2 separate regions of the Homo sapiens genome follow, and region 1 is linked to region 2. The links come from fine-mapping of genetic effects on gene expression. A gene starts in region 2. The other region holds a variant in brackets. All regions are shown on one strand. Distances are between the middles of the regions.

Region 1 (4,397 bases), 35 kb after region 2:
ACACAAAGAATAAGCAACTTGGATTACTTTACATGGCTTGTGTGTGTGTCTGTGTGTGTGTGTGTGTGTGTGTGCATGGGTGTACATTTGAGACAAAGAAAAAGAAAGCAAGGTTATGAATGTGATGAAATCTTATTAAAAAAATTAACATAGAAAACTGAAAAATTACAGTAACCTTCCTTTCTGAATTTGGACTTTCCCTCCCTTACTCTGATGTCCTTTTTTATTTTCACAGTTTAAGTCCCAAAAGAGAGATACAAACCTGTCCAAGATATAAGTCCTGTGATTATTTCAATGTAGTGGAAGAATACTTAAACCCTCACAGATTTAATCAACAGTGGCATTTTCCCCCCTCCCCTGTCCTTTCTCCTTTGTGTGCAGTGGAGAACCACAGCCCTCCAAGGAGACTTTCAGGATGGCTTAGCTGCCCCAGCTCCGTGCAGGAGCCTGAGAGTTCTGAGCCTTTTAATTGGCCTTTGTGGTGCTTCTGAGACAGTGTCAGAAACTCCTGATCTCATCTTCTTGAGGCCAAAGACATAGATTTAAGAGGTTAAAGGTTCATCTCCAGTACCAACAAATGCTCTTTAAACAATGTGCAAATTCAACATAGTGCTCACAGCAATAAATAAGCCATAATGATAATGTTTGCTGCTGCAAATTTCTCCACATGGCAAATTAATTCATTCTGATTCTGAACTGGCAACCAATGGCAACATTAATTTGCCAGATGGAGATACAACCTAAATTCACATGTGCTCTTCAAGCCACAGACAAACCTCTTTTCAAAGGCAGATATAGCAATGCATAGTAAGAGGATCACAACCAAGCAAGGGATATCTACTGAGTATCTTCATGGTGACCAGTACAGTGCAAGGTGCAATGACAGAAGAGAGTATGAATCCTAGGCTGCAGGGAGCTTAAGCACTGGTTAAGCACTAAACCTAAACACAAAATAATCAGAGTGCAATATAGGGGGAAAACATACATTTAACCCGGGGATCAGTGGGTTTAATGTCATAGGATTTGAAACAAGAGACAGATAACTGAGTAGGGAGCAAAGGTTTCCGGGAAGAAGCTGAACTTAAGTTCAGCCGGGAAGAATGGAATGGGTCAATGAAAAGAACATTTCTGGATGGCCAATCAGTCTAAACAAAGGCAACGAGGAAGGAATTATTATGCCTCTTGTAGCTAATTGTGAAAGTCTGATCTGACTGCAGTTGACAGGATTTTAGAGAGAAGGGGAACAGAGTTGGACTTGATTATGGAGAACTTTGACAGTCAGGTAGAGGAATTGACATTTGATTTGCTCTATATATCAGATAAGGATTGTGTTTCGCTGCAAGCCACAGAACTCTGAATACATTTTCTTAACCAAGTAAAGGATTCATTTTCTCAAATAACAAGAAGACCAGCACCAAGTGGGTACAGGAGCTCCACACTGACAATCTCCCTCTACCTCTTGACCATACATGGTAGGAAGCATTGTTGCCTCATTGTTCCAATATGGCTGCTCCTCCTCCAGCCTCATATCCACATTCCAGGCAGTTTTATCTACTATTTATTGTAAAAGAACAGAACAAAATTCTCTTAAGACTAGCAAATTATAGCAATTTGAAAATCCATCACTTACAAATGTTAAGTACTGGT[G/C]ATTGTATAAGATAGTGACAACGCAGAAAGGTTTAGGAAATGGTCCCTGGCTTCAAGGAGATCCCAGTGTTGTGGGAGGTTAGATTATGCAATACCCCATGAGGAAGCTCCCTCGAGGGTGTGGGCATAGTCTGTGGGAGTTGAGAGGAAGGGGGACTGATTCTGTCTGAGGGCTGGGGCATGATTTGCACTTTGATATTGTGTGGTTCTACAGTGGTACAAATAGGACTGGACTTTTCATTTACCCTGAAAGCAGCTTTTAAGCAACTCAACTACATTAGGGCCCCGGGGAAGGACTTTACATTGCCAAAATCTACAGGGCTCACCCTTGACACGCCAGAGTGCCCTCTCAGCACTGGGGAAGAAGCCAGGGAGAAACTCGGAGGGCTGGAATGGAGAAACTGGATTAATCATATTTGCAGTGTGTAATTCTGTAATTACTATGAATCTTTCTAACCGATTCTTCTTTATTTCAAGGTTAACTGCAGTTCATTTTTGGACTTATACTTACTGGCTTTCTTAATGCAGTTAATTGAAGGTCAGCCTAATTTTGCAAGTCCCCAAATTCTTCCTCTGTTCTACAGAACCCACTGGTAGGGAAGGCTGTGGCACTGGTTGGGAAAGGGGAAACTTTTTCTCTCATCCTTCACATCCAAAGATAGTCCTTCATCCTTTTCATGTTGTTTTAACTGACATTTTAATGATTAAATAAAAACACACAAAAAAAGAACATTTTGAAAGAAAATAGTTTCTGATGTTAGTCAAGGAAATGTAGTTCTGCTTTTTGTTCTCTCATGTTCAGTAAATCAACCAACCAGTTCAATATTCCTCTAGTAGCTCCTAAAATGTTTTGCACGACATCTGGTTGTCAGTTTCTTTCACTAGATGGTGAGTTCCTTGAACCTAGTTTTTGGTTTATAAGACATTGTCCTCCTGGCACCCAGCATAGTGCAGACACAGAAGAGACACTTGAAGCAGTTTGCTGAGTGAATACCTGCAGGGCAGTTCCTCACAGTCTGAGTTTTTACTGTGGCTTGTATTTATTTTCCTGATGATACAAGCCTAGGTCATAAAACTGTATGCCCAAAGAAAAAGCCTGGGTGAAGTCTGACAGGAGCATCCAAAGACCTTAGGCAGAGGCTAAGACTGGAGGATCACTTGAGGCCAGGAGTTCAAGACCAGCCTGGGCAACAAAGTGAGACCCCGTCTCTTAAAAAAAAATTTTTTTTAAGACCTTGGGCAGAAAAATCAAGGAGTCTATTAAAATGCCTCAAGAGAATTTTTCAGAGCTCAAAAGGAAGGGAATCCCAAGTCTAATTTTGTCTGAGTGTTTGCTGTTTGAAAGCCAATATGAATTTTTACATTTTTAATGCAAGTGTTTGAATAGCTAAGTCATCTACAGTGTATAGAAGTATAAGTTGCAAAAGTATACCATTAAAAGTTTCCTTTCCACCCAGGCACTGAACAGCTGCAGAGGCACCCACCCATAGACTATGATGGGAACGGCCCCTCCATAAATTGGTAACTCAGCTGCTTCACTCCCAAACCTTCCTCCTCCAGCCATACAGTCCTTTTCCCCAGAGACAGCAGATAATACCAGATTCTTCTATTTCCTTCTAGAGCTAGGCTATCTGTACATGTACACAAGGAGATAAGTGCATGTATTTTATCAGTATGTATATTTTATAAGAATGATTTTAGTGAGCAGAATCAATAGAAAAAAATCAATATGAAGCAGACGAATGAGAAGACTTGGAACAATAAAAATGTAAAGTGGGGAGAAAAGGTATCCAGATGCAGAGTGATCATTCATCAGAAGGCAGAAATATAGCAAGAAGTCTACTACATAAAATAAAAAGAAACAGTGAACAGTGGGGTCACAGACCCATCTGCCCATGAGGATGGGCTTTTCCACAAAGCGAATGAGCATTTGCATGGAGAGTCACGGGGAATCTGCAGCTATTGAGTCAGTGAGGGAAATCATGGTGGCCTGCTCCCCCAGGACACACTGTATTTGCAGGAATGTGGGTGTGTTTTACTCTGTGGTTGCATACTCACTGAGAGACTCATTGGCATTTGCCCACTGTCACCTTGGGCATTTTCAGAACCTTCCCACATTCCTTTATGTTATTTCAGTGAAACAGGACATTCTATCTTTCATATCAAAGGAACATGCCACTCATTGGCCAAGGAGCCTGAGCCAGGATGAAGCAGGGGCCATCCATTCTGAGGAGCACTACCCCAGTCCCTGCTATGCCATGGCTAAAGCACCTTCCTCATGGGAGATGTTCTTGGCAGTTAATTTACGCGAGGTTGGCTTGGGATAAACTGGGACAGGACAAGTCAACCAGTTAGTCCTGTCTTCCGGAAATGGAAAAATTTTGCTTGGGATCAGGGAGCAAGAGAAACCTAGGACACGGTTATTTGTCAAGTAAATTTCCAAGTAATGATTGGATTTGAACCATGTATGAGGCACCAGGCAAGTTTCTGACTTTCTAACCAAACTATGTTAGAAATATAGGACATCCACCCACACAGAAAGGTGACTGGCAGCACAGGACCCTGCCAATGAGTGGAACATCCAACAATTGTGATAGGCTTCAGAGAAGTGAGGGGTTCACTTCTGGCTCTTTTGGAAAGAAAGGTTTCACCTAGAAGTCTCCATAAAGACTCCACTGGGGAAGGTTCTCTCCTCCTCCTGCCCTGCAGAATCTTGCAGCAATATGGCGGATACAGCCAATGAAATGTCA
Region 2 (4,397 bases):
TTTAGTCAGGATCCAGATAGGCCAGGACAGAGTTAGAGCTCCAGTGGACTGATCAGAAATCTGTCCTGCCAAACCTAATGGGAGGGTTAGGAATTTCTGCTCCTGACACCCAGTGGGTGGTTTCACAAGTTTTAGAGGGTGACTGTTCAGGTGACTGGCAGCACAAGGAAAGAGGGAAAAGCCTTTTCTGTGAATTTCACAGGCAGGGTTGCAACGCGGTGTGAGCATGGAGCAGCTTGGCACAAGGCAGCCTTGAGAGTCCCCTGGCTGGCTGCGGGGATGATGTCAGATCCCGACTGGATGCTGCCCCATTCAGTCAAAGCCGTGCAGCCTGAAATGGCACATGTCCCCATCCAGGCTGTCTGGGCGGGTCAGCTGGCCTGGAGACAACAACACAGCCTCAACGTGACAGTCCCCACATTCTGCAGACTTAAAAGGGAAATCCTTTGGATTCTGCCTGGACTCCTGGGGCTCAGCCCTGGCCTTGCCTTGAGGGTGCAAAGAGGAGTAAAAATATGGGAAGGCCTGTGTGCAGCTGCAATGGATTCTTCAAGTGATCAGAGGCGGTTTCCTGCCTGTGAGGAGTTGGTACCATGAGCGTCTTGTTCCTTGGGTCCCTCCTTTCCTCTGCTGCTGATGCCCCGCACACCTTGCCCCCTCCCTATTGCTTCTCCTCACCCCACCTCACTCCCAAGGACGTCTGCTTTTTTATTGTGAATTTCAGCTGCCTGCTTGTTTCACCTCCGGTTACTCAAAGGTTTGCCCCAGTGTTTCTCCCCCTTTAAAAGACTCCATTCCTAGGCCTTCCTGCTCCATTCCCTCATGCCCTTCCCTGGCTTTCTCAGATTTTCATTTTCATTTCCCTTCCCATTTCTACAAAGGCAGGATGTAGAGGAAGGCCAGCAGAGGGCAAAGAGCCCGAGAGCCGGGATCAGGAGACAGGAACGTGTTGGCGTGTGGCTCTAAGCGAACCAAAGAGACTGTCTCTGGTCATCCGTGTTCCCCACTGTTGGTGAGGCTGGGTCACCCAGGCCAGAACTCAGTGCCATGGGTTGTGCCAGTGTTGGTGCTGTGGCGGATGCAAGGAATGGGACTCTGCTCTGGCTTGTGCACACCTACCGAGTAACAAAATCTTCATGTCTCTCTCTGATACATGCACACATATTCAGATAACTAGATAGACAGGGAGATAGATAGATATATGGATAGATTAGATAGATAGATGATAGATAGATAGATAGATAGATAGATGATAGATAGACAGATAGATGATAGAAAAATATCTGTCAGAATAAAAACATAATCCTATAGGCCAATAAGGACTCAATCAAAATCTTACAGGGTCACTGAATCAGAATCATTCTTCCCCTGAACTCACTTTCATGACTCTTTGCAATCAGGTGTATCTGTCCACCCCATTTTTTTCACAGTTGGGTGAAATGAGGAAGTAGTGTAAGGCTGGTTTTTCTTTTGCTGCCACAAAGGTCTACATAACTGCTGGTTCCTGTTCACAGTGAAAATGGTCCTAACCAGATGAATAAGGGACACAAGAGACATAACACAAATCAGAGAAGTTAAAACCAAGCTTATTCCTAAGTGCAACTAGCCTAAGCAAGCTCATGCCTGCCTGCTGAAGCCCCAAGTCTTCTACCTTGATAAAGGTTACTCCCTCCATTTTAACTGCTCCTGCCTCCCCTATCTTTTTTCGAACACCATGGCTGATTTATCTAAACCCTATGCTGCTTCACAGTATTTTGAAAACAAATTAGAAATCTCCTTCCAGTTTTCCAGAGGTGATTAAATCCAAGACGCCTTAGGAATGTAGAGGATAGAATAATATAAACAACAGATCTGAGATAACCATGGCCGGCAGCAGTTGTGGTTAGTTGCTTCTTTTCCTTTTTCATCCATCAGTGATGGAAGCTGGATTGGGTCCACTGTATAAAGTTCGGTGGGCATAAATCTGCTATTTGATCCTGGAAAAACTCTAAGGATCTAGAGTCAGCGAGGAATTGCAGCAATGCTGGTGTTTCAAAGGGCCTAAGAAAAGCCAGGAGTCCTGGCTGCCCAGCCCCGACACTGTCTTACAGGCTGCAGGTTTACCTTGGTTAGCACAACAGGCCAAGCTCTCCCTTGCTCTAAGTCGACATGACATGATTTGTTCCCTTTCGGCTGTGTCAGTTCTGCAAACCAGATACCAGAGGCTGCAGGCTCAGGAGAGCCTGCCTGTCTGGAACACCGTTTGTTTGGACAGGACAGGCCACTAAGGCGTTTCATCTCTTTAAAGCTCCCAGGGCAGAGAACATATTTGAGGAATTCCTTTTTTCAAAGATTTTTTTTTTTTGCCCCTTCCAACATTTTGTTTAAGAGAAAATGAGATGTCTATCTTCTGTTTCCTTATTTTTTTTCAGGAAAGCAAAGGGTTGTTGACTTCCTCCCTCTCCCCTCCCTTCCTTCCTTCTTCCCGAAGGTACTCATCTGAGAAAAAGAGAACGAAGTATTGTTCCTGTTCTCTTTCTTAAGTCATTCGAAACACTGTCCCTGCGAGTTCTTTAAGTTCCCTGCAATCTGTACACAAGAGAAAGAGGGAGAGAGAGAGGGAGAGAGACAGAGAGAGCAGGGATCAGGTAAAGGAGTGGGGCTGCTGCAGCCATTCAGACCTCAGGAGCTGGTAAGTTACCCATGCAATCATTTCTGCTTCCTTTTCAAGGTTCCTGGGTGGATACTGCTGTGGGCATCTTCAACAGAAAATACCTTACTGGGAGTAGTCCTTAACCAAAGGGTATAAGTGATAGATGGCCCAGAATTTCAGCTAATACTTTTTTTTGGTAAGAGAATACTGATGCTTTGCAGAACTAAGGCTGGCAAAACTAGAAATAGAATTACATTGGGACTAAAGAGGACACTGCGTTAAATCTGAATTTTGGCACAGATCATGTGGCTGGGAGAACCAGGAGCCACTGGCGTGTGAGATGTGTCCCACTGGAGAATTTGCTCTTCCTCAGTACTGTGTCCTGGGAGCCTTATCAGGGTGTCTGTTAAGGACTGTGGTTTGCTCTGGGGTTTTTGTTAATACGTTACCTGGATTGAGGTGCCCTTCTCCTGTTCTTTTCTTTCCATTCAGCATCCCCCTAAAGGAGGATTGTTAATTGTTATATGATGGTTATTCTGCATCACTGAAGTAGAAGGGAAAGAGAGAAGGGAATGTCACTTGGAAATAGTTCTGCATGTGGGGAGCTTATGTGTTCAGGTTCCCCATGCGGGTTGAGTGTAAATTTATTATTCACTGTCAGTGGAAGATGTCATCTGCCACATGATAGAAGGCAAAGGTTTTGGGGCATATAGCTTTAGTTTTGGAAAACAATATGCAGCTAGAATGGGAGGATTAAGATGGATCATTTATGTCAGTAGGAGGGAAAAACTAAGTTACAGACGCAATTGAAAAGCATTCACCCAGTGCCTGGTTTTCCAAGCACCAAATAGGGCGTAGCAAGCTAGTCAAGCTAACATACACAACTAGTTTTTAAAAGTCTAACTTGCTTCAATTAGATTAGTCATAAAGGATAATGTTACCAGCACCTATCATCGCAAGCCATGAGGGAGCCGAAATCATGTTGTCAAAAATAGGTCAGCAAGGTCACTCCGAGAGACTCGTTATGTTTCCCAATATTAATACTTTAATTCAGAGAGATGCCGAATGGGTAAAAGCCAATGGCCAAGCATACTTTTTAAAAATATTCACTGCTATGAAATTTACTGATTGAAATCACCTGGGATGTGAAGAATAAGATAAAAATAGCTGGACTCTCATTTTAAAAATTAATTTGGCTAGACTATGCTTTAACCACATTCAAGTAATTAATCTTTATTCAAAATTGAACCATCATCTTACTAAGGATGAGAAAACATGACAGAACTAGACTGTGATGTAGCTTTTGTTCCATTAGTCAGACCTCTTTTTTCTTCTCCTTTTTTCAAGGATTTTCTTTAGGAGCATCATAAAACGAGCAATGTAAAGAGACGTGAATAGCGTTTGCCAGCTTGCGGATGCAAAATTATTCTAATAACAATTGAAAGTGTTTTACTGCTACCCTACCACCTCCCCTAACTACTCCATTTCCATAGATCTTCAGATCAAGAGGTAGCTGGAATAGATTGTCGAGGGCATTATTGCATCATTTATCAGCAACTGTGGCCCCAGAAGAAAACGCAGGTCTGCGATCTTGACTTGCTCCTTTCAGTTTCATTTCTCTTGATAATGTATTGAATTTTGTGCTCAACTAAAACAACATCACAGAACACATTCTAGTTTTGTTTACTGAGTAAAAGCATCAGATGCAACACAATAGGAAACAAATGACAGCAGAGTCATTTGTTAAAGACAAGGAAGGCAATTA

Which allele goes with the higher level. Alleles are on the strand shown, and positions count from the first base shown. SD is a standard deviation of normalised expression in the study named.
In carriers of allele G in region 1, the expression in monocytes of the gene that starts at base 2,512 in region 2 tends to be lower than with C alone (moderate effect, 0.46 SD a copy in Quach 2016).

What was found. PIP is the estimated chance that this variant, and not a neighbour inherited with it, causes the effect.
Region 1: its variant is the best candidate, but not a certain one, in a credible set for the expression of ZNF366 in monocytes (Quach 2016, PIP 0.53).

The regions. Positions count from the first base shown.
Region 1 is chr5:72,470,330-72,474,726 of GRCh38, reverse strand. The region is part of intron 1 of ZNF366 (zinc finger protein 366); the gene reads left to right. Among named protein-coding and RNA genes, the nearest start is that of ZNF366, 35 kb to the left of the region's middle. The variant G/C (reference allele first, on the strand shown) is at 1,648.
Region 2 is chr5:72,505,525-72,509,921 of GRCh38, reverse strand. It overlaps ZNF366 (zinc finger protein 366), which reads left to right and starts at 2,512. Exons shown (of 5, transcript NM_152625.3): 1 at 2,512-2,671.